Linked DNA regions of Homo sapiens. The protein of the gene in region 1 purifies or fractionates together with the protein of each later gene. This does not show direct contact. Each region holds a gene or a part of one and is shown in the gene's direction. Other genes may lie near its edges.

What was found. The genes of interacting proteins can lie anywhere in the genome.
Region 2: the proteins of FGF11 (region 1) and SCN5A purify together in Homo sapiens (co-immunoprecipitation; 2 studies listed by BioGRID and IntAct, with this or other methods). This does not show direct contact.

Annotation. Positions count from the first base shown.
Region 1 is NC_000017.11:7,442,168-7,445,437, forward strand, and holds the end of FGF11 (fibroblast growth factor 11), read left to right. Parts: intron 1-426; coding exon 427-625; intron 626-908; coding exon 909-979; 3' UTR 980-2,770; downstream 2,771-3,270. Other genes in the region: CHRNB1 (acetylcholine receptor subunit beta precursor), read left to right, coding at 2,961-3,018, 3,103-3,242.
Region 2 is NC_000003.12:38,608,088-38,611,687, reverse strand, and holds part of SCN5A (sodium channel protein type 5 subunit alpha), read left to right. Parts: intron 1-1,723; coding exon 1,724-1,954; intron 1,955-3,473; coding exon 3,474-3,537; intron 3,538-3,600. UniProt on the Homo sapiens protein: Pore-forming subunit of Nav1.5, a voltage-gated sodium (Nav) channel that directly mediates the depolarizing phase of action potentials in excitable membranes.

The DNA of each region.
Region 1 (3,270 bases):
TTACTCACTTCCCTAGAGTCATCCAGGATAGGGGATAGTGAGAGACTGGGAGTACAGTGGAGAGAAGGAATCTTATTGCAAGACCCCTAAAAGTCTAGTTCTTTTTTTTTTTTTTAAATAGTGACAGGGTCTTGCTATGTTGGCCAGGCTGGTCTGGAACTCCTGACCTCAGGTGATCCACCCGCCTCGGCCTCCCAAAGTGTTGGGATTATAGGCATGAGCCACTGTGCTTGGCCCAGAGCCTAGTTCTTAGCCCTCAGCCCTCTTCCTTGTCCTCCCTTTGCTCCCAGGTCCTACATGGACTCAGAAGTTGTCCTCCCCCTCCCCCAAAAAGGATTTGTGCTTTCCATGAGCTCCTTTCTGCCCAGTGATGTGTCTTTTTATCTCTCTGTCTTTGTGCGCCTTTCTGGGTCTTTGTCTCCTTAGCCGCATTTCACAGCTGAGTGTCGCTTTAAGGAGTGTGTCTTTGAGAATTACTACGTCCTGTACGCCTCTGCTCTCTACCGCCAGCGTCGTTCTGGCCGGGCCTGGTACCTCGGCCTGGACAAGGAGGGCCAGGTCATGAAGGGAAACCGAGTTAAGAAGACCAAGGCAGCTGCCCACTTTCTGCCCAAGCTCCTGGAGGGTGGGTATAGACTCAAGAAAATGTGGGCCACAGGAGAGGGTATTGACCTTGATATGGACATTTAGGGGCAGACAGCTCAGGCTACAAGTGATAAGAGGACCCTTTGTGACAGATCAAGCCAGGAAGGCTTTGCCCTTTGGGGGTTTGGGTGCGGTCCTCCTGTGGGGTTGGGGTTCTTGGAGGGTGAATGTACGGGAAGGGAGCCCTTTTGGAGCACTGGTTCTGCCTGGGTCCCTCTGTGCCTAACTCTCCTTCCCTGCTCCTCTCTTTCTCCCCTTCACAGTGGCCATGTACCAGGAGCCTTCTCTCCACAGTGTCCCCGAGGCCTCCCCTTCCAGTCCCCCTGCCCCCTGAAATGTAGTCCCTGGACTGGAGGTTCCCTGCACTCCCAGTGAGCCAGCCACCACCACAACCTGTCTCCCAGTCCTGCTCTCACCCCTGCTGCCACACACATGCCCTGAGCAGCCAGGTCCCACTAGGTGCTCTACCCTGAGGGAGCCTAGGGGCTGACTGTGACTTCCGAGGCTGCTGAGACCCTTAGATCTTTGGGCCTAGGAGGGAGTCAGAGAGGGGGATGTCTGAAGATGGTCCTGGCTGATCACTTCTTTCTTTCCACACTCACACAACGCCATGCCTTTTCCTGAGATGGCGCTGGGAGTTCCCACATGGACAGCCAGGGCATAAACACTTCCCACCCCGGCTCAGCCAGTTCCTGGAGTCCTGTGCCCCTTTTCATTGCCACTGAGCCATTTCTAGATTCACTGGAGCTCAGGATTCATGTGTCCTTCTTTCCCTACTCTACCTTCTACCTTGGTCTGGACACATTCTGGAACACTGGACACCCTCGCCAGGGCCACTTCTGCACTAGGGCTCTGTGCTGGAACCCAGGCATGCTGCCAGCCTTTTCTCTGGATCTGTCAGGCCTCTGTCATTGACTCAGATGGACCCCTGGTTTCCAAGTAGAAAGAGGCTAGATTTGGGCCTTGTCTAGCTGTTGGCTTTGGCCTGAACCGGAACCAGTCTCAGATGACCACGGGTTTAACCTTCTTATCCCAGAGACACCCAATTCTAGAGCTTTATGGAGCCGTACTTCCCCCTGAATCCTAGCTCTAGGACATAGATCATGACTCTCAGCCCTTTTACCCAGGATGGAGCTGGGGCCTGTATAGCCATATTATTGTTCTAAGTAAGTTCTAGCCCCACCCTCCCGCCTTCTTGAGTGATACCTATTACGGATGAGTTCTGGAAAAGACCCAGCTATGATTCATAAAAACACTTCTGGATGAATCAAGAACCATTTCTTGTTTTTCCTAGATAATTCTCTAAAAATATGATTCTTCCATATAGAATGCTAAGCTTATTTTTACATGCAGTTTCTAGCTCCTTCAACCCAGCTGAGGTCGTGCCAGGGAGACAGAGTCTGGAGAAGGGCAGAGGAATTTTGGAAGGATCCCTGGCTCATAGTAGGGAAGCTGGGATGGGGGAGGGGTCAAAATTATGGCATGACTGAACCTGCATCTGTGTTGGGTGGACATGAATACTTAGCTACCTCAGCAGGAATTCCTTCCAGGTCCCCTTTAAAGCTGAGGTCCTTAGAGTAATATGTCCTTAATAAAAAGGACAAATGGATACAGCCTTGACCCTCCCAGTGAGGAGACCCCAATTCAGCAATAAGTCTCACCCTTCTCCCCTACAGGTCAGGCCAAGAAGGGTGAAGGCCTCTTGCACTCCAGACCTCATACGCCCCAACAGCTTCTAATTGGATAGAACTTGCTTTACCTTACAGCTCACAACCTCAGCTGGGTTTTAGGTACCCAAAAAGGGCCTGTCTAGATTTTTTCAGAAAAACGTGGAGTGCTAGGGGCAGCCTGGAAAAGATGGGGAACCTGCTAGTGAACTAGGAGGGAGACTTCCATAGCCTCAGACTTGGATAGGGTAGGCTGAGGGGGCCCTAAGGGAGGGACTAAGGCTCCAAGGCAGGTCACTTTTCCTTAGGCTGTTCTACTTCTGGCTTGTTGCAAGAGGAGTAGATGCCCCCTCACCCACACAAACCCCACTCAGTCTCCACCCAACTCCTGGCACTGCTCCCAGGGGATCGGGTCTCCACTCCAGCTTTCTCAATTAAAGACGATTTATACAACTGAAGTGCTGTCTGTCATCTGTCGGTGGCGGGCTTGGCAGTTGCTCGAGGCAGGATCAAGTCCCGGGGGCGGGGCGGGTGGGCTGGCGGCTGTCCTCCAGCAACAGGTGCACATTCCCGGGCTCCTCGTCACTTCCCCTGTGCTGGCGGTCCCAGCGGCTCTCTGAGCGAAGTCACTGAGCGAGCCGCCAGGCTATGACCCCAGGGGCTCTGCTGATGCTGCTGGGGGCGCTGGGGGCGCCGCTCGCCCCAGGTAAGTGTAGGCCCCGAAGGGGCAGTGACGGGGCCAGCGGTCGTGGCCAGGCACCAGGGCTGCACTTATTCTCTCCTCCCCCAGGCGTCCGCGGCTCGGAGGCGGAGGGTCGACTCCGGGAGAAACTTTTCTCTGGCTATGATAGCTCCGTGCGGCCAGCGCGGGAGGTGGGAGACCGTGTCAGGGTCAGCGTTGGTCTCATCCTGGCGCAACTCATCAGCCTGGTGAGGGCGCGCGGGGGGTGGAGGTCAG
Region 2 (3,600 bases), on another chromosome or scaffold:
TTTCCATAAAATGAGAGTGAAATCAGAATTGGTGATTTCCAAGGGCTCTTCCACCCAGCCTGTTAATTCAGTGGCAGGAGGATTTCCCAGTTGATCTCCTGGGGCCAATCCCTTCCTGGGTCTTTTCAGAAAGAATCCTGCAGTTTCGTTGCAACCATTCTTGCCAGAAGTGAAATCTATCATCAGTATGAGAAATGTTCAAAGGGGTGAGTTACCCTTGGCCACTATGTCCACAGACCAGGTCAGGGGGTGCTTTGCTGGCCTTGAATGGGATACTTCAGGCCAAAGAGACTTTAGCCTAACAATTGAGGCAGAGACCAGTTTGGGTATTGGAGCTGCTGTCCATCAGTCTTCACTTTGTTCCCTTCGAGACATGCAGGTCTCCAGCCCAGTAAACCCACCAAAGGGTACAGGAAGCTCTGTTACAGATGAGGAGCTCTGGACCATGAAGAGCTTGTGAATCTCACCACCGCCACTACTCTGGACCCAGACCTGTGAGGTCCACCCACTGCCCAGGCAGTTGCCAACATCTGCCAGGAACGATTTCCACAAGGAAGGCTGAGTGCCTCTGAGCCCTGGGTGGGCAGCAATGTCAGTGGCACCATGGGGAGGTCATCCTCTCCCCATCTTGTGTTTGCTCATCATGGCCTCCCTGCCTGTGGGTCACAGGCCCAGCAGCAGCAGGCACAGAAGCCACAGGCGCTCCTAACACATTAACCGGCTGGACAGTGGATGGATGGAGCTTAATCTGAGATCTGGCCGCTTGGGACAGGGACATGAGGGGCAGGGCCCTGCCGCTGGCAGAGGAGCCTCCTCATTCCCCATGCTCTGCTTGCACTTGTCCTAGGACAGTCGCTAAGGGCCAGACTGGTGTCTACACATGCTTTTCTGTCATTCTGCTATGTGGTGCTGGCTTCTGCAGGGAGCTAGGCTGTGCAACTAACAGAACACAGCCTCTCAGCTATGGGAAATGGGATGGATGGGGGTGTGGGGAGGTTCTAGAGGGACAGGGCAAGTGAGAAGATGCAATGCAGGTCAGTCCTGTTCCTGAACCTTCCCTAAAGGTGGGCCTGAGCCAGCGCAGGCCCCTTAGACATCACCCGCCATGACCCCGCCAGACCGTCACCCACAGCCCCCAGCACACACCTGACCACAGCCCTCAGCCCCTACCCGACCAGACCCTGGGCCCCTAGTTTCCTCCAAACAATCCACACTCCCTGTACATCAAATAGAGCCAGCCCCAGCAGTGGGGCAGGAGGACCTCCAGCAGGAATGGCTCTATTTCTCCCCATCTCAAGATCAAGGCTGAGGCCCCTCAATTGCCTCCATCTCCTTTTCCATGGACTACATTAAAAGGGGTAGGCCTAGCACACCTTCAGACTAGCCAAAGGGGGTCATGCTCTGAGTATGTGTTGTCTCAAGAAAGCAGCACTTTCCACACCCATGCCATATATTTGGCTGGTGGAGAGCAAAGAGGAGCAGGCTCCCTCTGAAACTACAAAGCCAGCCTAGACTCCTGCCCAGGGAAATCAGGACAGAATCTCAGCTGTGAGGAAAGTGGGGCTTGGGTCTCAAAGCCCAGGAGAAGCCTCCCTTATTCTGTCCCCACCTCTGGTTGCCTACACTGGCCCCACCCCAGCTCAACTCAGGCCCAGCCCCCCACCAGTGGAGCACAGAGCTCGGTGCCCCTGGGTGACCCCGTGCTTGTTCTTGCCTTCCCCAGGGCTGAAGACCATCGTGGGGGCCCTGATCCAGTCTGTGAAGAAGCTGGCTGATGTGATGGTCCTCACAGTCTTCTGCCTCAGCGTCTTTGCCCTCATCGGCCTGCAGCTCTTCATGGGCAACCTAAGGCACAAGTGCGTGCGCAACTTCACAGCGCTCAACGGCACCAACGGCTCCGTGGAGGCCGACGGCTTGGTCTGGGAATCCCTGGACCTTTACCTCAGTGATCCAGGTGCGAACTTGCTCTGCAGCTGGGGAAGACTTTGTGAGACCAGCAGACCGGGGTCACCTCCCACACACGCGTCACCAGAGGGCAGGCCTCCAGGGCTGTTCAAGCCCTGCCTGATCCCCCAGAGACCCAGACAGAGGACAGACGGGTAGCAGACTTAGGGCCTGCCTTGTGACTTCCCAGGCTAGACGGAGAGGCAATGCTTGAGGAGTGGAAAGTATGGAGTTAGATAGAGGGCCAGTTGGCTGCGGCATTTGGAGATGGGACTGACCCTAGAGTGTTGCAATGGCAAGGTGACCAGCCTGCCCACAGAGTGTCAGCTTAGGAAAGGGGTGGACATGGAGCCAGCGTAGTTGATGAGGCTTCAGAGTGAAGCCCCACCTAGCTGGCATGGAGATTTCCCAGTTGCCGTCAGTGTTCCTTGCCAGGATGCTCGTTCCATATACGTGTACCCCAGAACCCTGCAAGAGGGTTGGAACAAGCCCAATGATTGTGCCAAGTTGTGTGAGCCCCTCTGTTGTTTCACTGCCCCGTGGCTCACACTTCCATTCTCCAGGCTGATGGCCAGCACCACTCTTGACTAGAGCCATTGGTCTGTTTCGGAGGTACATGCTGCTGCAAGGCCAGATTCCAGGCCACAGGACCCTGGGCCAGAATGACCCTGAGGGCCATTCTGAAGTTAGGGCCTCTTACATACACCAGCAGTCCACTTTGGAAAACAAAACATAGACACTCAATGAGTAGTTCAGCAGTGGCCTCATAACAGCAGTTCTAAAACTTCCATGTACACCCAAGTCACCTAGAAGGCTCTGGAAAACAGACTTCTGGGCCCCACCCCTAGAGTTTCCGAGTCAGTAGGTCTGGGTGGCAGTCAGGAAGTTGCATTTCTAAGCAGTTTCCACTTGATGCTGATGATGCTGGTTCGAGGACCATGCTTTGACAACTGTCGCCTAAGACAAAGCCAGGTAATGGTGAGTGTTGGGGACTGATGACTTGCCACAGAAAGGAGAGGACAAGACGGGCAGTCCTGTCTGGTGTAGCCCCATCCGGACAGACCACAGCGTTAGCATGGTGACTATTGCAGGCATCACTTCCAGCATTTTATGTGATGGAAGTGAGTACAGAGCTGGGCAGTAGCCGGCCAAGGCCCCACAGTGACTCGGCAGCCAAGCCGTAACTGCCCAGACCCTTGCCTCCTGGCCTTGGTGGGCCCCCTGAGTGGTTTCGGGTAGGGTGCAGAAGCTTCCTGTGGGGAGAGCTGAGGCCCTGCCCAGGGCTTCCCGTGTCTTCTGAGAGCATGGGGACACTGGCAGCAGGATGTCTTCAGAGGAACAGAAGGAAGGCCAGAGGCACAGCCAGAGTTGCCTGAAGCCTGGCCAGGCAGAGGGCAGGGGCAGGGGCAGGGAAGGGGCAGAGAAGAAGGAAGACCGCTAGTGAGGTCTCCACCTCCCCAGAGCCCTGGATGCAAGGCGGAAACTTTTGGGCCAGAGTGCCCCTCACCAGCATGATGTTTCTCTTACAGAAAATTACCTGCTCAAGAACGGCACCTCTGATGTGTTACTGTGTGGGAACAGCTCTGACGCTGGGTATGTGGCACCTACCACCCCGGGTCTCCTTGTCCTGCCAGGGGAGTCTCCTGGTGTTTTCTC